Regions from separate parts of the Homo sapiens genome. Here region 1 is linked to region 2. Evidence: fine-mapped expression QTL. A gene starts in region 2. The other region holds a variant in brackets. All regions are shown on one strand. Distances are from middle to middle. Region 1 overlaps PREX2 (phosphatidylinositol-3,4,5-trisphosphate dependent Rac exchange factor 2). Region 2 holds the start of ARFGEF1-DT (ARFGEF1 divergent transcript).

Evidence for each region. PIP is the estimated chance that this variant, and not a neighbour inherited with it, causes the effect.
Region 1: its variant is the best candidate, but not a certain one, in a credible set for the expression of ARFGEF1-DT in hippocampus (GTEx, PIP 0.89).

Annotation. Positions count from the first base shown.
Region 1 is chr8:67,962,964-67,974,421 of GRCh38, reverse strand. The region is part of intron 1 of PREX2 (phosphatidylinositol-3,4,5-trisphosphate dependent Rac exchange factor 2); the gene reads right to left. Among named protein-coding and RNA genes, the nearest start is that of PREX2, 17 kb to the right of the region's middle. RefSeq lists an enhancer at 3,190-3,691. The variant G/A (reference allele first, on the strand shown) is at 6,123.
Region 2 is chr8:67,339,798-67,350,673 of GRCh38, reverse strand. It overlaps ARFGEF1-DT (ARFGEF1 divergent transcript), which reads right to left and starts at 6,840. Exons shown (of 5, transcript NR_136224.1): 1 at 6,372-6,840. It overlaps ARFGEF1 (ARF guanine nucleotide exchange factor 1), which reads left to right and starts at 6,893. Exons shown (of 39, transcript NM_006421.5): 1 at 6,893-7,510. The coding sequence starts at 7,387. RefSeq lists enhancers at 1,093-1,593, 7,199-7,879 and silencers at 6,603-6,862, 7,043-7,272.

The DNA of each region.
Region 1 (11,458 bases), 620 kb before region 2:
AATGTTCATCAATTTTCACTTTTAAAATCAAGTTTATGAGAATGCTTTTTAAAAACTCCATAGATTTTTCTTTTACTTTTTTTCTCTCTTTTCTTTTTTCATGGCAATCATGTTGTTTCTTCTCAACCAAGATACTGGCAAATTGTATCTTGTTAGTCTAAGTCCAAAGTAGTACACCAAGGCACCACTGAAAGAAAAGCTTTCAAACACGAGGTTCCTATAATTCACATTATCTTAAAAAAGCTGTTTATCAGAACACATCAAAGCAATTTTTAGTAATAATTCACTCTTTCTCCAATTTTCAATCTAAGTGAAGAAAGGTATATAGCACATTTTTATAATTCATAGAATATTTTCTTATTTATAGCATATACTAATCTACTTCAGCCAATAAGATACTTAACACCTAGTATGTAATAGACATATGCTAGGTTCTATAGAATATATGAAGGAAAAAAATGTGCATTAAGTTTTGCAATAAGTGAAAGGACCTTGAAAGTTAGAACAGTTGAACTAGCACTGTTCTTGATGTTAACTCTTAGATTCCACTTTCACATTTTACATTTAACTCTTGGTATCCATGTGTTCTGGGGCTACTACTAATACAACTGCTCCCAGCTGTAAAATGTCTGACTTGCTTTACTATCAGGCCCAAATATGATAATGTTTTATAAACTGTGATATACCACACAAAAAAATTATCACAAAACCCACATACATAGTAATGCAAGACCAATAACACTGAAGTGCTAAGATATGCGTTACCAACAATAAAACCTATAGTTAGTAGTGACAAGAACCTATATAGGAAGTGACAAGAAGATAAAAGTGGTATGAAACAGACTAGGAAGAGATGTCATTACAAAAAGGTGATGTTTGAATTGGATCCTGAGTATGGATATTCAAGAAGAAAGAAGAAAAGATATTCAAGTATGGATATTCAAGAAGAAAGAAGAGCATACATAAGTAGAGGCAGAAAGGCAGATCAGCAAGATGTTTGATGGATCACTTGAGAACCCTATCGGAGAGATTCTTCAGGAGTAGCTACAGCAAGTTAATTTGACAGATATGCCAAAGGCCCTTTTTTGTAAAAAGGCTCTAGAATGACAAGTTGATAAATTAGGATGTTTGAGCATCAAGGAGGCAAAGTTTATGATAAAATGAAATAAAAAGATGAAAACATTCTTTTAGGAAGATTAATCTGAGAATGTTTGTTGGACGGATATCAGTCTGCCCATACTTTTATTGCCGTATCACCCCTAAAGTAAAGGAGACTACTTCAGAGAAGAAGCAGGGGAGGCCTGGAGAAAGGGGTATATCTAGTGACACTTAGAAACAGAAATCAACACGGCATTGAGAGTGGCTGAACAAGGGATGAAAGATATGGAGACAAAGATGACACTGAGCCTTCCAGTCCAGGGAGACCAGAGAAGACCAATTACAGAAAAATAGGGGAGGGACAAAGAGGAGTTACATGTCCTCTAAGGGAAAATGATGAATTTAGTTTTGCACATGTTGAGTTTGAGGCAAAAGTGAGACATACAATGGAATGTCCTTATATAGAAGACATGATTTTGGGATTCAAAATCTTCACTGGAGCAATATAATTTAATCTGGTTTATGTAAAGGTAATTGCAGAGGCCATGGTCAGTTGATAAGCTTACTGGAAGGGATTAAAGTAGGTAGAAAGGGATGCAAAGGTAAGAAATGAAAGTTAGAAAAAAAGTGGGTAACTGTAGAGTTTCATCAGGGAACCTAAGGGAGGCCCTACAGGGAGGGAATTTCAAACAAGTAACACTGATGAACAATGCCGGGGAAGTGAAGGGAGCTCAAAACTGGTGACAGAACTAAGAGGTATGGTTAAAAGATAGTCACGGGGAACCTTCAGGAGCCTAGCTTCTTAAAAAAAGGGTCTGAAAGGCAGGTTGGGAAGCAGTTGAAAGAGGAAGAGAATGCAGTAAATTCAGCAGTAAATACAACGATGTAGTCAGGGAACCTGAAAGCTTTGGGACAGAATTTACACAGGAGCTGCAAGAGGCAATGAGATTCAGAAGAGGTTTCACATACTTTCAACACAGAATACATGACTATATCTGATGGCATAAACAGGAAGAAATCAAAGTTACACTTTTGTTCCTTACTCATATGTAGAGGTAATAAGTTTTATGGAGATCACCAATGGGCTTTATTACAGAAATTACTGCAATCAGAAATCAAGGGCGATTACTCATTCAGCCAAAAGTAAAGACACCTGAGCCCCTCACGGCAGTGAACTTTAATTATATCTTTAGACATAAGGGAAAATATGAAAACAAAACAAAACCATTAAGGACATCACATCAAACAAGTGGCTTTACAGAAATCAGTTTCTTGCACTTCAAATCTCCCTTGGCATGCATATGCTTATGTTCACAAATTGGCACTTAGAAAATAATTCTCCATATCTCATCACAACAAAGAACTTTGGAAAATACATCAGTCCTCCATGGGAATTCTCCAAAGACTTTAAAATATTAATTTCTACAACATCCTTATTTCCCAAAGTAGCATACTTCCTTTCCCACGTCAGGAGTACTTCCCACTAATCACTGTTGTCTTATTGCCTTGCTCAGACACATGGAAAATGATTTGTTGACTGCTTTCTACCTAAGTTAAATCAAAACTTTAACTATATCTTTTCCACTAACAGTATTTCTCATTACTATTGCAAAGTATTAATGGATAACTATATCTCCAATAAATGCAGCCTCCTAGCTAATTTCATTTCTTTTTAGTTTCCTCTTCGATGTTGAGTTACTTCTTAGTTTTATAAGTGGATTTTGTCAGTGCATCTCTTCTCATCATTCATTCTATTATGATATTACCTATTTTTTAGGGGCAGTTTGGAAAGCATGTATCTCAATCCTTGATTAATATATATATTAATGTCATGTATTCATTTCCTTGTATTTCTGAACCCTACTCCCACATTAGAATCACCTGGGGAGCTTTTTAAAAATAGCAATTCTTGACTTCCACCCTCTCTCCCCGCACCCTGAGATTCTAATTAAGCTGGTCTGGACCGAGGTCCAAGCATCAGCAATATTCCTCACCGATTTAGTCTTTCTGACTTTTGTTGAGCTTAATGAATTGATCTCTCTCAGGTCTCACCTGTGCCCAACAGAGCCATTCCTGCACTCTGGCTAGAAGCCGGCCTCCCAGACGACGCTTTCTGAACCAAGGCCCATTGTTTTGACTTCCTTGCTCAAAAATCTCCCCTAGCTCCCACACTGTCTACTAATTAGTCCTAAACTACCTCTACTGTTATTCACCATCTGGCCCCAAGCTACCTTTATCACCCCCTATACCACTCTACACCCCTGCACCTACTCTTCAATGGGACCACTTTAATCACTGTTCCACAAAAGCAACACCATGAAATGGGACAACCTTTTCAACAGTTCCTGTGAAAAGTAAAATCTAGCCAAAAGCCTCAGGCATTTACTCTTTGTTACTAGAACGACAGATGAAAGGGAATCTGTTTGCATTGGGTAAATAAATATAAGAATAATAATTGCAAAACAGCTGCACATAGCACCTTTCTGCTGCTATGTTAGCAGGTGGATGAAGTGAGCCCTGCATCCCCAGTCTCTGTCCTGACCCTCAAGCCTCCTGACATGCACTTGGAATAGGCTCCTGTATGATAATCAGTTGTTTCACAATCACAGAAGAGGAAAATGATTTTCTCCTGATTTATTTCATATTTCTTACTCTGAAGTTGAAAGAGGATTACCTCTTGATCAAGAAAACATGAGTCTGTAGCTATTAGTGTGAGAACTCTAACTCCAAGTTATGTTTGGTATATTTTCCCAAACTAGCAGCCCAACAGAATCTCTGTAGGAGGTTGTTGGAGCTGAGAACTGCCAAGTAAGTGATTAGGCTTTATTTGAAAATTAGTTCCATCAGAGACATAGGACCATAAAAATAGATTAGGGGTATGGTTATTTTTGCTGGCATAATTAATACCATGTTGTTGAAAGGCTGATGGTCATTACACTATTTCTTCATATGAATAGGAATAGTTCTCATTTTAGGTTTGGTGGTTTGGGCCTTTTTATTTATTATATTTTTTAGTGTGGGGCGGTAGTTTGATGATTAAACTGTATCTGAACTTTACACTGCTTTACATGAAATTTAGAGGCTATGACTCCAAGGAATAGATTTCGATCTGTTTAGATTAACAGATCGAGATTAACTCACCTTCAACAACTGTTACACAAATATACACCATCAGGTCAATAAACAAAACAACTTCACACTTTGACTTCCCAAAATGGAGATAGCTGATTTCCCTCTTACTATTTCCCATACTTACGGAATCTCTAAGCAGATTATAACTACAGCATAAACAACCAAGAGGAAAAAATATGGAAGGTACTAGGAATTAGAGCAAATTGAGCTATAGAAATTTTAGAAATTATAGAAATTTTCAGACCGGAGTGAGACTCAGATGATGGGCATAAGATTCTCTAACTCTCTTCCTTTTGTTTGTAGCAACACATTTCACCTGTGCTCACCTGGGAATGTATGTGAGCTGAAGGAAGAGACTTCCCATTTTTACACAGCGGTAGCAAAATGAACCCACTCACCAAAATAAATGGCAACCTTCGAACAAGCTGTCAGGAAGAATTTCAAGTTTTTCCTGAGGGTTCCATCTCCAGAAGAGACCAGACTTGATGTATGAGGAAGGTCCCAGCAGCTGGTAAATATTCTTCTAAATTATACAATAATCATAAAACATTAATAAACCTTCCTAGGTGGAAAATGGACTTGAGGGAGTAACTACAAACCAACTGTCTCAAATGTTACTCTAATCATCTCAGGAAGTAAGTTTAAAAGCAATCAAAATCTACCTCTCCTTGGGTTATAATTTTGGTCCTAATCCTTATTATTATGGGATGGTCCATCCCTCAGAGTCATCACAAGCCTAAAGGCCACACTCAAAGCTACACAGTCAGTGCCAGAGGCTCCTGCATGAGAAAAGATACAGGGGGTGATGAGACCAGAATACCTGAGAGTGGGCTCAGCAACAGCAACGACATTTCTCTAAAAGGTAGCAGAGATCTCTGAAGCTGCTGCTTTGGCTGTGGCATTCATAGACCACAGAGAGAGAACTGAGCTGGGTTAACCCTTGTCCCCGGTTCCTTTATGACCCCCTGCCACATTCAGACATTGTCTTAGACCAAACTCTAAACGCGGCCTCACTCCCCAGTGATAACCCCAACCAAACACTGTGCTCTTGATAAATGAGCACTGTCAGCACTCAGGGCCTCCAGGTCAGGCTCTGGCATGGTGACCCCAGCCACACGACAACCTGATGACTGGCATGAGCATTAAGACGCTGAGCAGAGTGCGGCAGAAAATCTCAAAGCCTCCAAGTAAGAGCTACTGATGGATTGAAAATTCTGTTACAGAGTTCAAGGAGTTTTACATATCTGATTTCCTTCCTAGGCACTGTATCTTGCATTATTTCCTTAGGCAAGTCTTGCCTTTAAAGTTCACCCGTATCCTTTGCATTCTTGTGGGTTAGTTTGGTACAACGGCTATTAGGTTAAGGCTGATTGTCTCCATTTTGTCAGATTCAAACCACAGTCAAAACCAGTTCCCCTGAAAAGCATAGATAAGAAACCCAGGATTTTCCTTACTTTGAAACAATCAGGCAGACAGGTCACAAATAGCACAAAAGAGAAGTGGATGCGAAAGATTTCAACTTTCTGTGGTAATTGTGTTTGCACTTCCTTTTAACTTTTATGATGTATGAGCCACAGAAAGGTCTCCTTAAAGAGAAACAGGAAGAAGAAAGCACATAACCTTATCAAAAAAATACAGACAGCTAAATTCCTTCCCTTTGGTTATACTTTTTAAAAGCCCAATATAATTATTCACCCATTCCTATTCTGAAGTTGGTAATGATGATGGTAATAAAGCTATTTCCTTTTCTTTGTGCTGCGAATTCAGTGAACCAAAGAATGAAGCTCCGCAAAAGGCTGCTTAAGAAATATCATTTCTAGAACTAACCCTGAAAAAAATGTCAGCACCAGAATCCGAGCTCCCAGATTCTATTAACAATTTAGTCAAGAGCC[G/A]ACGTTCCAGGATGCTAAGGAGAAAGGGAATATTTTCCACAGTCCTCAAGTGACCTTTCCCCTCCCCAGTCGCTGGCAGATGCTTCCAATAGCACTTTACAGGCCACATAGGGGCCTCTTCCAGCTGTCCACAAGCCTCAAGGGAGTCATTTCTATAGGGCAATCAGAGAGACAATACCACAGGAAGAAAGCCGGGGAGGGTTTGCAAGGTACTCTTTTTTTTTTTTTTATACTTTAAGTTCTAGGGTACATGTGCACAACATGCAGGTTTGTTACATATGCATACCTGTGCCGTGTTGGTGTGCTGCATCCATTAACTCGTCATTTACATTAGGTATATCTCCTAATGCTATCCCTCCCCCAACCCCACGACAGGCTCAGGTGTGTGATGTTCCCCACCCTGTGTCCAAGTGTTCTCATTGTTCAATTCCCACCTATGAGTGAGAACATGTGGTGTTTGGTTTTCTGTCCTTGCAACAGTTTGCTCAGAATGCAAGGTACTCTTGATCCTTCCCATCCCCTTTCAGGGAAAGGCCTTAAATAAGAAAAATGTATGAAAGCACCTCATACCTTAGCTTTTAACTCACGTCTGGGATTATCTAAGGCAATGGTCATAAAATGGCTTTTAGAGCCTGCTGCACATTCAAGATCTCCAATTCCCACCCCTGCCCCACTTGTTCAATGCTTCCATCCCCTCGCTGCTAAAGGATACTTCATTTCCAGCAGAAGCTTTTCAGCCTATGGTGCCCCAACTGCACAGCGTGCTGGGTTCCCATCCATGATGAATTTGAATGTTGGCTGCAGTTCCACTAGACATGGAGCTGCTGGGCATGAAACCTTATTGACAAAACACTCCACAAAATAAGCTCCTCAATGGTATAAACACAGAACAGAGTGAGGCAGTGGATTTTAAAGATTGCACCTTTAAAAAATATATGCCTATTATATTAAAGTCAATAGACTGAAAAATGACAACTAAAGAATGACACTAGTTAAAGCCTTAAGTCTTAGTGTCACCATGCTTTTTCTAATCTGTTCTATTAACTTTATTTATTAGCAATGTACATCTGGGTTTAATCTCACCTCTGAATTATCACTACACTGAAGATTTAAACAAGAAATCAATTGGCACTTTCCTCCTGGATATTGCCTGTTAAGGTTAACAGTAAAAAATAAAAATTCTTTCAAATATTTTTAGAGATTTACAAAAAAGAAGAGTGACAGAAAAGAGTGAATGCCTGCTTTTTCATCTTACATAAAATGTCAAAACACATGCACACTTATTCCTCTTCTCTGCTTCACTTATTCTCCCAGGCACTTAGACTAGCTAATACATCATATATTTTACTCATTTATCTTGTAGCTCCTAGGTTAGAGTCAGAGCTCCATGAAAGCAGGAATTTGTAATGCTTGTCAGTGCTATATCCTCTGAACCTTGAATAGTGATTGGCAGACAGTAGGTGCTCAAGAAATATGCCTTGGACCATGAAGAATAAAAATATCTGGATTTTGAAAGCAATCATTGGAGAGAATCAATCACAATGCTTAGCATATTAGGGGTTATTTTTTAGGTTGCCTGATTCATTGCTGAAAATAAGTTTTTTCACTTAATAAAGTTGGTTTTGCACATTAATTTATAAATAGCTCTGGTTGCATTTTCTTTTTGTTGTTGTTGTTGTTTTTTGTTGTTTGTTTGTTTTTTAGAGACAGAGGTCTCACCATGTTGCCCAGGCTAGATTTGAACTCCTGAGCTTAAAAGATGCTCCCACTTCAGCCTTCCAAGCTCTGCCCAGATTGATGCATTTTATGGTAATTCCTTTTTTCTCTTTTACAGATTTTTTAGTTCTGTATTATTTGGAAAAAAAAAAACCTGTAGATTTTACTTAACACATATTCAGTACTAAGGGAAATTACAGAATATCATAGAGGAGTTGGAACTTTGAATTGTGACATACTGGAAAAGAAATAATTTGTAGGAAGGATATATAGTACAACATAGTAAAACTATAGGCAATTTATTTTCTTTAAATGTTAGCAGACATTTTCTTTTTAAAAAATTTATTCAAATATCCTAGCTGACTACCTAGATCTCTCATTACGGTTTGCTTATATTTTCACAACATCATCAAAGGTGAATCTGACCCAAATCCTCATCTATAGAAATACATATATTTAAAATTGAAGATCCAGTCAAGTACTAAGCTCTCAAATTTTCTGACAATCCAACTTATCATGTTCCTCATAATGAAGTAAACCATAAGTAGAAATTTTTTAAAAATCTTAAATCACAAAGAATATTTGCTACCCTCAAAACATTTAATGATACAGAGAAGACCCAACTTACATGTGAGAATTATTAGCGCACTAAAAATTATACAGGAGAAACATCAACTTCTCCTATTTTAATTGAAAGCTATGCTCTTCCATGAATAACATGATTCCTTTTTGGACCCTAAAAATCATATGGTTGTGCTAATTGTCCTTGCTAGAAACTGAGGAAAATGTCTCTAGCTATGTAACATGACCCATTTACCAAACTTCATTCTATGACTACCAGAAGGCCGTTTACTCTCCCTCCTCTATCCTGTCAAACAAAGTAGGTCTGGCAAACAGAACACTCTCAAGAATAGTGATCATTTTTAACAATGGATTCATTTAATATATGTTTAAACTACATTAATGCTTTTCACCTAAGCAATCAATAGAACATCCACTGAATGCAGACATACACACATTTTGGACAGTGTGTGTGTATATATATACATATACACATATATATATATACACACACATATATATATACATATACACTCATAATAATTACATATGTTAATTATACAAACTAATTTTATATCTTTGCCTCAAATGTCTTGTGATTTGATCATATATAGGATAAACACGAGCTATATTTAAACACAAAGCCAAGGGTTCAAACCTGTTAGGAAGCACTGTAAATACACAGAGATCCAAAATGATCCCAGAGGACTTAAATTAAGCTGAAAATAGCATCAGTACCAACATATATTAACAGATATGCCAATGGGAGAACTAAGGTTTTCTATTTCTGAAAGTTTCATGTGTTTCCTTATTTCTGTGAGGGAAACTCCTGACTTCTGGGTAATCTTTGGCTCCTGAGTGCTTGCCTGGCTCTAACCCTGTCTTGGATTGACCATAAGCTCCTGTTGCTCTCTTGCGCTTGATGGTTTGCCTGAAATGAACTACTGTTCCTTCCTGATTTCTAGCTTCTGTGTACTTCCGGAGTCAACAAGTTCTGCGTCCCTACTCCAGCAACTGCCTTGGTTTTCCTAGTCCTGATTAATCACACCATTCCCACAATCCAGAAGAGTCCGGGCTGTGATTCATCAGCAGAACATCTTGGAAGAGCTATATAACTTTTGCAGTGGATCTTTTCAGAATCCCCACTCTCCCAAATAGGAACTGACCAAAATGTCCCCAGGTGTGAGTTTACAATGATCCGAGGCTTGAAGATAGTTCTAAGTCGTGAGTTAATGAATATGCAGTGCCTAACACATAAGAAACACATAACAAAAACAGAATTTCCATATTATCTTGGAATTTTTTTTCTGGAAACTTCCACAAAATTTTAAAATTACATAAAATCACCAAATACCCCAAAGCCTTTCTGTAGTGAAAGCCAATGGAAAAAAAAACAAAAACAACCTTGAGAGCTCTGGAGCTCTTACAAATATATCTGAAGAGAGAGATAAATGTTAGATGGATTGCTATGTGGGAAAGAATATATTATTTTAGAGGGAAATAATCCAAATTATATTTTAAATACAATAGGTTCTTACAGTAAAGGAATCCAATAATTAATATAAATGATTTTCTGAGGACAGGAGACTAAAGTATCAATGGATTCAAAATGTGGCAGAGATGACCCTTTGCCCCTCAATATTTATTCCCATGTCATTATTTCAGTGTAGAACTCCCTAAGTTTCAGCTGGGCACATGGCTGTCCAGCCAGTCAGCGTATTTCCCAGTCTCCCTTAGAGCTGGATTAGCCATGTTACAAAGATCTGGTCGTGGGGATGAGAGTGAAAGTGATGTGTGTCATTTCTGGGTCATATCCTTAAAGGGAGTGCTTGCCCTCCACTTTGTCTCCCACCCTCTGTCCCCCTAGGGCTGGAATGTGAAAAGTGTAGTGGTAAGTCAGCTTCAACCATAGGGAAAAGGACAACACCCTACTATACTGGTTCCCCCACCTTCTCTAACCCATTGGAAACACCTAGAGAATCTACATAAATACTGAGGCCTGGCTCTCACCCCCACATACTCAGATTTCATTGGTCCTAGGGGCTGGTAGAGCAATAAGATAAAAGAAGCAGGAGTCTCTGAATAACCTGATGTGGCTGAGCGGCTAACCCCACTGGAACACCACTGGGGTATATTTAATTTAAAAATTAAATAACCAGAGTTCTAAGAGAGAATGCAAAAAAGGCCATGTTGATTACATATGGCTTTCCTAGCCACAAACAATCCTTCTGCATTGTTCAAACTATTGTTATTTGGTCTCAGTTAAGGCAGCTGAACAAATATCCTTACGAATAAACACAAAATTCTGGCCTTCAGGAAAAAAAGAATATGTTAAGTACAGGTAAAAAAAAAATACTATTCTTTTTCTAAAGGAAAAACTAAAGTATAATTATTGAAAACAAAAAAGTGCAGTTTTAGCGTAATCTGGGGAAATTATGGCTGAACTAGAGATTTATTAAAGAAAAAACAAAAAATAAACTAAAAATATTAGACAAAGACAGAAAAAAGATACTAAAGTTGGCCAATTCATTAATGATTTGCATAAGTCAATGAGGCCTTGGTATCAAAATGTGATGATTTTAGGACAGAGTTAAATAAATATTGATTTCTCTTATAGGCCCATTTTTGACAGGACATAGGTTAGCCTGCTTTAAGACATGGTCTTAATAAGAAATAATAAAGATATAGTCTCCTTCTATTTTGTTGCTCTGTCACCCTGAACATGTACCTTCCATTTCATGTTCTAAAATTGCTGCCCCATCACCTGCCATCACATCCTCATACCAGCCAGGGAGAAGAGGGAAAGGAGAAAAGAGAATGCACACTCTTCACAATAAGGGCACACTGCAGAAGTTACCCAGGCCACTTCTGCTCACACCCCACTACCCAGAACCTTTACATAGGCCCACACTTATCTGCATGGGAGGCTGAGAAATGTAGTCTTAAGCTGGACCTAAAACTTTTATCACTATAGAAGAAAAGAACATTGGGTACTGGGGACACTTAGAAGTCTCTGCCAGAGGTTTCATTATGAAGTGGTACAAGAAAACTTGAGATAA
Region 2 (10,876 bases):
GACAATGTGGTCCTGCCTTAAAATAATTATGGCACAATACTGGTGAGAAGTCATCTCAAACGGATATTTAGAAATATGTGACGAAGAAAGAAATAGGATGAAACAATGGTTAAGAGCATCCATGGATTATGGCAAATGACAAACTTAGATTTGTATTTGGTTGTGCTACACTGTAACCTTGGGCAATTAACTTGTTGAACTTTTTTCCTTCTCAACTATAAAAAAGAAATAATAATATATGTATCACTGAGTTGTGGATTAAGGATTAAGTGACTTAATGCTTGCCAAGAGCTTCATACAAAGTAAATATCCAATAAGTAGTAGCTATCATTGGTGTGACTTTCCGGGAAAAATTACAACTGTGTAGAGAAAAGTAGAGTACAGTGCTATAGATTAAAAGTAAGTACCTTTCGTCATGCTAGAGAATTGTGAAACCAAACATAGTAGGAAAATTTAAGAGTTTATGCTTTCAATTTTGTTATTCTGTAAAAGATTAGCATTGGATGGTTTTAAATTCACGAAAAGCCATATGGCTCTAGATTTGTATTTATTTATTTATTTTTTTGCAACCACATTCTAACTTTTTGGAATGTTCTCTTTATCAAATACCACCTTATAGTCTCTTTTTCAATAAAAATTTGCTTTCTTTTCTTTCTAAATCAAATTCTTTAATACACAATGCTCTCCCTCTGTCTGCCCTGTCCAATGTCTTGATACCTTGCCTGCAGGACAACAAGTAGAACCACCCAGTTTAAAGATACACTATATCCTTTTTTATTTTTTTGGAGACTGAGTTTCACTCTTGTCACCCAGGCTGGAGTGCAGTGGTGCAAATTTCAGCTCGTTGAACCTTCGCCTCCCAGGTTCAAGCGATTCTCCTGCCTCAGCCTTCCAAGTGGCTGAGATTACAGGCATGTGCCATCACACCCTGCTAATTTTTTTTTTTTTCTTTTTTTTGGTAGAGACCAGGTGTCACCATGTTGGCCAGGTCGTTCTCAAACTCCTGAACTCAGGTGATCTGCTTGCCTCGGCCTCCCAAAGTGCTGCGATTATGGGAATGAGCCACTGCGCTTGGCTAAAGATACACTATATCCATTTACTGTCTTAATAAATGAGGTAAAAACAAGCAGACTAGTGAAAGTGGAATATCAAATTAGCTTACATGAAAAGCCAAGAAAGCAGACCATTTATTTTGGAGATGGCCTTTCTTCTATTAGTCATGCCATTATTGTGGTTTCAGCAAAACTGATTGTTTCTGTTTAATCAATGTTTCTCATCTTTTGCTAAGTTGGCTGCCTCATCTTTTTGTGTATGCCTAGTCTTCAAAAACTTAAAAGTAGAGAATTCAACACTACTGGGGACAGTTAGGCATAAAGTGTAGACACAGAAGGGAGAGAATAGTGTTACTGCAGGTAGAAGAAAGAACTTTTAGGAGAGGATGGAATTTCAAAGAGACTTTGAAGGTTGGGAAGCCTTTGGGGAGAACAAATAAAAGAAAGGTGGCAGTGAGCACTCTGGATCATTTGAAAGACGAACAAAGGCACACAGGTGTGAATGAACTTGGTGTTTATATGAGTACGTTGCATGGGGATAAAAGGTAGAGGGTGATTTGGAGAAGGGAATGAGCTGGAACACGAGTGCCTACATGTGTACAATTGAGGAAGAGGGACTGGGGCATTACCATAAAAGACAAACTAAACTGTTAGAGGCGGCATAGTTTAGTTATTTAGAATATGGGCTCTGGAGCTAGACTTGCCAAATTGTAATCCTGGCTTTGTAAAGGTGTCTCCTCCCCGCCCACTCCCACACCCCCACCCCTTTACCAGGAAAGACAAAAGTTAATCACTGGAGACAACTCTGGACCCTTAGGATTCAATAATACATAACAAATTTTATTACCTAGCTTTCATCTTCTGCTAGTTCTCTCAAATTTGCTTCCCAAATTTGCTACGCTAGAAACTCAAAGTCCTTTCCTTTGTAGGATTTTTCTAAAAATTTATTGTTATTTTATTACGATGCTATGGAAGAACAAGTTCTAACCACCACACTTTTGAGTTACTCATCACTGAGTACTCCCATAACTGTACCACGCACAGGTTAATACATCTTTGCTTTTATTAATCTGTCTTTTGTCCATCTAATTTGCAGAGCCCCAGCCAATGAACTAACAACACGGGTAGAGGGAAAATAATTTTTTTCCTCCTCTACCAATGTCAGGAGTCAGATTATGGAATGTTTAAATTCTGAGATTATGTGAGAAAGACTACCGGAGGCATCACATAGTTTTTTTTAGTCAAGTAAACATGATGTTATTTTTTATGTTAACTAATATTGGCTTTCAACATCAACCAAATATGCTCCACATTAATTAAAATTTTATTCAGATTTTAATCTTTGTGTTACACTCAATGTATATCTATATTTAAAAGGACTATGATAAAGCACACCAATAAAGATGCTAAAACCCAGATCAAAGTCTTTTATTGCTTGATATTATTTGACTCTTTGGAAACAAGTGGGAAAATTATCCAAGAAGTAAAGCCAAAGCAGCTAGTACGCAGCAAACTAACAGATGGAAGGGGAAATGATGAGGGGGAATTAGGTGATAGGAAGGTGAGAGTGCAAACTGAGAGGCAAAATGGACTCAGGAAAGCAATTATGTATAAGAAAAATATATAGCTGGGCTTAGTGGTGGGCGCCTGTAATCCCAGCTACTCAGGAGGCTGAGGCAAGAGAACTGCTTGAACTCGGGAGGCGGAGGTTGCAGTGAGCCGAGATCGTTCCACTGCACTCCAACCCGGGTAACAAAGTGAGACTCCGTCTCAAAAAATAATAATAACAAAAAACAAAAAATAAAACAAAACAAAAAAAGGAAAAATATATTTCAAAATTTAGAGGATAGATATTTTAGAAATTCAGAAATAGAATTTGGATGTTTTGAAAACTGCAAGGAGCCAAGTGCAAGTGAATACTGAGATTGCATTTATTTACATAGCTGTATATTAGCACCAAACAACATTAATAATAAAAAGTAAAAAATATATATATACAGGGGAATGTACTCATAATTTCTTTTCTTTTTTTTTTTAATTGAGATCGAGTCTCACTCTGTTGCTCCGGCTGGAGTGCAGCAGCATGATCTTGGCTCACTGCAACCTCCGCCTCCTGGGTTCAAGCGATTCTCCTATCTCAGCCTCCTGAGTATCTGGGATTACAGGCACCCGCCACCACGCCCACCTAATTTTGTATTTTTAGTAGAAACGGGGTTTCACCATGTTGGCCAGGCTGGTCCTGAACTCCTGACCTCAGGTGATCCACCCGCCTCAGCCTCCCAAAGTGCTGGGTTTACAGGAATGAGCCACAGTGCCTGGTCTGTACTCATAATTTCATGTAAAAATCTCCTTTGCCACTCCCTGTGTACCTGTCAATAAAAGATTGAAAATATCCAAGAGCATCAGCTTTATTCTAGAGTCTTACTCTATTTTTGCTACAGGTCTGAGTTAGTATCTTGAGTTTCAAGTGGATAGGAGTGCCCATCTCGTAAGACTACTCCTACCCCCCTCCACCCTCAAGCACCACCACCTTTTGGGTAAACCCAGCAAGGGAAGAGGATGAGTTGTCCTCCCAAAGGAAGATGCAAATCATTCCTTCTGGGAGGGTTAGGTCATATCTCAGAGGAGTTTATTCTTCTGAAACTGACAACTACACTCTTTACCCTCAAATCTTCCATCTAGCCTATCTCTACAAATGGCATTTCCAACTGTTCACTGGTTCCCAGCAGAAACCTGGTATTCATTTGTGACCTCTTTCTCTCTCTAACCTGCACTCCAGTTAATTAAGTCCGGTTTATTCTGCCACCAAAGTATATCCCAAATCTGTCTACTTTGCTCCATCTCCATGCTACCACTGTCATTTCTGGGCTAACCTTTATGCAAATTAGTGAAAGAAGCCTCTTCTTTTGGGCAGACAGTGGGGCTGGATTTCAGCCACACTTGCTCCCTTGTGCCACGATCTCCACAACCTTGCTTGGTGGCCCTGGACCTGACCAAGCCATCCTGCGCTGTTGTAATAAATTTCTTAAAATGTTTTGCCACATCCTCACTTCTCCCCCTCCAATCCATTCTCCATGTAACAGAGGGATTATTTTAAAATCACCAATTTGATCACTTTATCCCCCACTTTTAAAACCTTTCAATGAATTTCCATTGTTATTACGATGAAATTGCAACCCCCTAACATGGCCTACGAGAGTCTGAATGATCTGGTTCCTAGCTCCCTCTTCATCCTGACTGGCACCATTCTCCTTGATCCTTTCAGCCACACTGCCTTGTTTTGTTTCCTGAAACTTGCCAAGCTTCCCCCTACCCCAAGAGACTTTGCCTGGAAAGTTCTTCATGACTTAGTTTGGCTAATGTCTACTCTTCTTTCAGGTCTCAATTTAATTTACTTCTCCCTTCTCTCACAGCACTCTATTCTTTAATCATACTCAACAGATTTGTAATTGTATATTCACTACTGACTTAATATCTTTTCCCTACTCTATACTGTAAGGTCCAAAAGGGCAGGTATCATGCTTGTCTTAGCCTGGTGCCTTTCATTTATCCAAGTTTCTATAAGTTTATAGCAAAGGCCTTCTCTATGCCAGCAATATAATAGATGATGGGCACACAGAAGTGAATAGACAGAGATATGAGGTCCCTGCACTTATGAGAGAAACATGCAACCAATCAACAAGCAAGGCAAGCAGATGAGATGATTATGAATGCTGTGGCACTATCATATCATAGTTCACTGCAGCCTCGAACTCCTGAGCTCAAGCGATCCTTCCTCCTCAGTCTCCTGAGCAGCTGCAACTACAGGTGGATGCCACCGTGCCTGGCTAATTTTTCTTTATTTTTTGTAAAGACAGTGTCTTGCTACGTTGCCCAGTTTCATCTGCAAATCCCGGCCTCAAGCCATTCTCCTGCCTTGGCCTCCCAAAGTGCTGGGACTACAGGTGCCAGCTTGTCTTGTTCATCAATGAATCCCAAGTATGTTTTACGATAAAGCTGACAGCTAAACATAACCGAAGAGTCTGCTTCGTTCATGTAAAGTACAAAATAGTTATTCTAGATGGTTCTTCTCCAAGAGTTCCAATTCAGAAACTAAGACTCCTAACTTGTGGTTCTGCCATCTTCAGCTGTGGCCATAGAAGGGAAAAGAGAGACTGGGCATGGTGGCTTATGCCTGTAATCTCAGCACTGGGAGGCTGAGGCAGGAGGATCGCTTGAGGCCACGAGTTCAACATGGTGAGATGCCATCTCTACCAAAAGAAAAAAAAAAAAAAGGGAAACAGCATGAAAGATTGCTTGTGGGAATTTCTTGTTGGTTTTTTAACAATAGGTTAAGCCTGGATGGCTACACCTAACTTCAAGGGAGGCTGGACAATGCAATTCTATACTAAGAAAGAAGAGTAAATGGGTTTGGTGATCAGCTAGTACCCTCAACAGTACCTGGCACAACACTCCATTATGAAGAAACAAAGATGAATTAGAAATGGATCAACACCTGTGAAAGAAGGGAAGAAAAAAATAAAAGAAATGGAACTTGTTCTAAAAAAGTTTATTAACGTATACACAGAAATCAGTATTATATCTGATCTAAGAGTATAATGAATCCTTCATTTCCAGGAATCTAGAGATAGTCTCTAAAATAAAATTAATGAATTTATAGATTTGTTTCTCAGGACAATAAAGTTTAAAAAAATTAATCTATTTTTCCACTTTAATTTGTCACCTTCAAGTTTTCCATTTTATTTCCTCTGGGTTTTAGCCTTCCTAAATCTGGTCACTTCACTAAGTTCACAGAGTCACTTAAGTTTCTCCTTCCTTAGGTTTGGATGGTTACGTTAGGACAAGCCTATAGTTAAGGCAATCTAATAGAACAGAACAGTGACAGATGCATAGTAAACATTAGGGAACCTGTGTGCGTGGAGCCACAGAAGCTTAGAACTTGGAGACGTGACCCTAGATCACCATATATAATGTTTGCAAATATTTTTATGGTATTCTTTTTCTGCTCAGAAGGAAACTGTAGAAATTAAATACTGCAGAAATTTGAGTTCTACACTCAGACTAAAGCAAACACATGGTCACGTGTGTTAATCTGTTTGTACTTAAAGCTTTTCCATTCTAAACTGGTTTACATGTCCTGGACTAAATCTTAGTATTAAAGGCACAGAAACACAGAACTCTAAGGGACCTCATTCACAACCATTCACCTTAACTGAGTCAATTCAGAAGGGACCTGAAATCTAGAGTTGACCGATTTATCCGACAGAGAGAGAAAAAAGTGAAACATTTTTGAACCCTTATCAATAGGTTTTGGCTTACTTTTCCCAAAACAGAATCCTCCCTGAGGTAGTCGGAGAGCAGAGTCCTGGACAGCAGTTCCGTGCACTAGGGAAGGAAATTTTAGAGTCGAGTGATGCAGGCGGAGACCCTGCGGCTGAGAACGGGCGATGCGGGTGTTGCTGTGACCCCTGGAATGCAAAGGACTGCACCCCCATCAGAAAGTTAGAAAGCCAGTGCAGAGTAGCCAGGAGTCCTGTTCACTCGGCAGGAGCAGGGGTGCCGAGTGGGGGGATCTCTGGTCCCGCAGCTCGGCCGCCACCAAGAGCCCGAAGTGCTGGGCGCGGTGCCACCAGAGGCCCGCCACGCCCCACGCCGCCCTGCAGGCGAACGCTGGAGGCCCCGCCGGGCCGCCGTAGCGCTGCGGCTCGGGCCGCTCCTCCCGCGCCGCCCTCCGCCCCCAGCCTCCCGGCGCCGCGGCAGCTCTGGGCAGGGAGCGCCGCCGCCGCCGCCGCCGCCGCCGCTTCCTCGTCTGCAGCCGTTCGGCCGCTGCGTGACGCGTCGTTTCCTCCCAACATGGCGGCCGGGGCAGGTCGGCGGTGATGGGGGCCAGTTCGCGGCCGCGGCGGGTGCTAATCCCCACAGTAGCCAGGGTAGCCCTTCTCTCGCGGTGCCTCTGAGAGCCGCCGCCACCTCGTCCCTCAGTTCCCGGCAGACAGCCGCCCGGGCCGGGCTCCCTCACCGCCACCAGGGCCGGAGGGACGAGTGAGAGGGGCGGCCGGGACGCGACCCCCGGGCCGGGAGAAGCGGAGGCCCGACGGGCGCGGCCCTCGAGGTACGGCTTCTTGGGGGCGGCGAGGACCTCGACGCCCTTCGCCGACACCGCGGCTGGTCCCGCTCGCCCGCCCCTTCCTGATCCTGCCGCTGCCCTCCACGCCTCCAATCCCCCACCTCCACCCCCTCTCCTTTCTCTCTTCTCTTCCTTCCTCTCCTCCTCCTCCCCTCCAGCCGCTGGGAGCCGCGGGTCGGACGAGCCGCCGCCTCCTTCTCTGCGTCCATGTATGAGGGGAAGAAGACGAAGAACATGTTCCTGACCCGGGCTCTGGAGAAGATATTGGCCGACAAGGAAGTGAAGAAGGCGCATCACTCCCAGCTGCGCAAAGCTTGCGAGGTGGCGTTAGGTGAGCGGGGAGGAGGCCCGGGGGATGGGGTGCTTGTTGTGGGGCGGGGAGGGGGGCGCCTGTGGGGGGGTGGGGTCGCCCGGGGCTTGCCCGAGGCCCGCGCCTCTGACCTCGGGAAGCCCTCGCGGAGCCCTCTGTTCCCTGTCTGGAGTTGACAGGAACTCGGCTGGATGTGGGGCAGAGGCGGGGTAGAGGAGGAAGGGCAGTGAGCTGGGCTCGGGAAACGCGGCAGGGCTTAGGATCGCGGGGCACCTGGGTTCGAGGGATCGACTTGAGAGTGAGAGGATTTTGTTGGTGGTCCGTGAGGTGCGGACTGGATACCACCCTTTGTGATGAAGCAGAAGATGAGCTGTTGTTTATTAGCTTGGAAATTGAGGTGGGGCTGGTATGTCAAGATTGGGTGTGGGAAAGGTTCCGTATCATAATTAACAATAACTTTTTCGTTTGGCGAGGTACTTTGGGGAGATAGGCTGCTGAAGTTGTTTCCTTGTTGACAGTCTTGAGAAGGGGTTTGCAAGAGGTGCAGCCCGTTCTGACATCTCTCCGCCTCCGCCACAGGAAAAACATAGAGTAATATTGTATCTGACTGGGCTGACCTGGAAGAACAAGACCGGTGGTTAAGGGGTGAGGGTGGGGGTGGCGGCATGAAAGCAGGGAAGCAAAGAACCTTTAGATAAAATGGCTTTAGGTGACAAGGGAAGGGAGGGTTTGAAATGAGGAAAATGAAAAAGACAATGACACCCACCAGCCACATGTCTGGACAGTGGCAGCTGCTCTCAAGCTTGAATTGTGATTTATAGTTCAGATGGAAGAGATCTAGTGTAATGAAGCCCGCAGCAGGGAAAATCCAAACAATACCTCCTACCTATGAGGTTAGGCAGATGAGGAGTTGTTAAAGGGGGAACATTGTTAGATCTATTGCATCCATCAAAGTTGAAATCGTTTGAGAGACCAGAACATTTAACACAAAGATACATTCCTAATGTTTACACTTTATAGCACTGGAAATACACTAGGTCAAATTGGCAAGAAAAGGAAGCTTGTTAAATGGGCTTTACAAAAAAGCATTCTTGAAAGGGGAAAAATCCACAATAACTTAAAGTATGCTAGAGTTAAGGAGTCTAGACAACTTAAAATTAGCTTTTAATTATTAAATGGAAGACTACCATTTAATTTGCTGTAATATACTGTAGTTTTTTTTTCCTAGATCGTTAAAATTGGTAATATGAAAAACGTCGAAGAAATTTCATCTTAAAACATTTGAATGTGTAGTATTAGGGGCTTAAGATTATTTTTTCACCTTACTTATCGACCAGAAGTTTGCATTTTGTTATTTTTGTAGCTAACAAAAGACTGTTCCCGGTGTATGAGAAGACAGTTGTCTAGTGGCAAAAACTGTATTTATATCTAGATCCTGAAAGGAATAATATTAAATTGGAGTGAGACTGGGGAGAAAGTGATTTCAGGATTTTTAAAAGAATTGTTATATGTAGGTTTGTAAATTACTTGAAGGTTGAAGAACTTTAGAGAGATTCAAATTAAAGTTTTAAATTTTTGTTTGTTTTTTGAGACAGGGGCTTGCTCTGTCACCCAGACTGAAGCGCAGTGACACAATCAGTGCTCAGTGCCGCCTCAAACTCCCAGGATCAGGCATTCCTCCTGCCTCAGCCTCCCAAGTAATTGGGACTTCAGGCACACCACCACACCTGGCTAATTTTTTTTTTTTTTTTTTTTTTTTGGTGGAGATGGCGGTCTCTCTATATCGCCCAGGCTGGTCTCCAAATCTGGGCTGAAGAGAGCCTCCCACCTTGGCCTCCCAAAGTGCTGAGTTTATAGGCATGAGCTACCTCTCCTGGCCTTAATTTTTTATAATTCAGATTTTTCATGTTACAACATATTTTTAATACATTAAATTGTAAGTATCAAACTGAAGAAATGGAGTGTGTTGTGTGTATGTATATATTTTCCTTCTCCAAAGTAGTAACATAAGTAAGCATATTTTAATGGAGAGCCTACTGGAATGAGAGTCTGAGATCCTAGGTTTAAATCCCAGTTCTGTTACGTTGTAGTATTAGGCAAGTCCCTGGGCCTTAAGTTCTCTGTAAAATTAGGGTATTGAACTTAATGATTGTATGGTCACATCTCCTCTAATGTGCCATAAATGTGATTGCACTGTCCTGTTAACTCGTGCATTGGGTATTCCCTACCACTCATGAGCATCATCTTTAGAGGGCCTATAGCGCTCTAAATGGTCCTTGCCATTTCTGGAGGTCGGGATTACTTGATATGTGTGCCAACTGTACCAGGGTTGTCTATTCCAGATTTTGACAGTTTTTACTTTTTTGTCCCTTCTGTATACTCAATAGAAGCTTGTTACGAGGAATGTGACTATCCAGGGAAGGGCTAGGCACCACAGTACTTTATTTACTTGAGATGTATGAGGCATTTTTTCCCACATTTCGTAAAGTTACATTTAGCCTCCAACAAAGCAAAATCTCAGTAATCTCATGGTAGCTAATCCCTGGTGAACTTTGTTTCTTCCCTTGCAGTCTATCTACATCACCACCCAAACATAAATTGATAAGCATAACTCATTTTGTCTTTGCAGAAAGTATATTTTGCAGGAAGATGGTATTCCCACAAATGTATTGTCCTTGAAGACCGTTAGAGACTTATCTTCTCCACTTCACTATTGAGACCTGGGCCAGGCCCGCTCTGGTCTGTTGGTAATCTATGTGGCCATTAAGCAGGATGGGAAAGCAAACTGAAAAGGCCTGATTTAGTCCTCTCGGTTCTATAGATTGTGAGTGGGTAGGTGTTGGATGGTGAAGATACAGAGATCATTTTGTGGGTGGTGTTATAACCCTTCTAAATACCCACCTGTCTGTCTTCATTCTTTCCCCAAATATTTATTGAGCATACAGCTGAAGGGAGATGGACAGTTAACAGGAAAATACATAGTATGTCAGACATTTAATCCTTTTTTGTTTGAAAATCATTGTATTGGCATGTGAGTAGATTTCTGAGTATTGCCATTCAAAATTAATTCAGCTACCTTTTAACATATGGCCAATTATAGATGGATTTTCTGTAAACTATACTCATGAAATTACAGCTTATTGTGTATTCTTAAAACTTTTTTTTTTGTCAAAAAGTATAACTTATGAAACAGCATGTAGATTAGGGGAAATTTTACTTCATTAAAACAATCCATTCTCAAAGACTTCTCAAGGAACTTTTATTTTCACAGAAAGAAAAATAAACCTTTAAAGGGATGCAGAGTTAATGTAAAACGTTTTTCAAATTTTCTTATGTCAGACTTCATTTTGAAGTAAAGAATGGTTAAAAAAGAAAGAATCCCCCCCC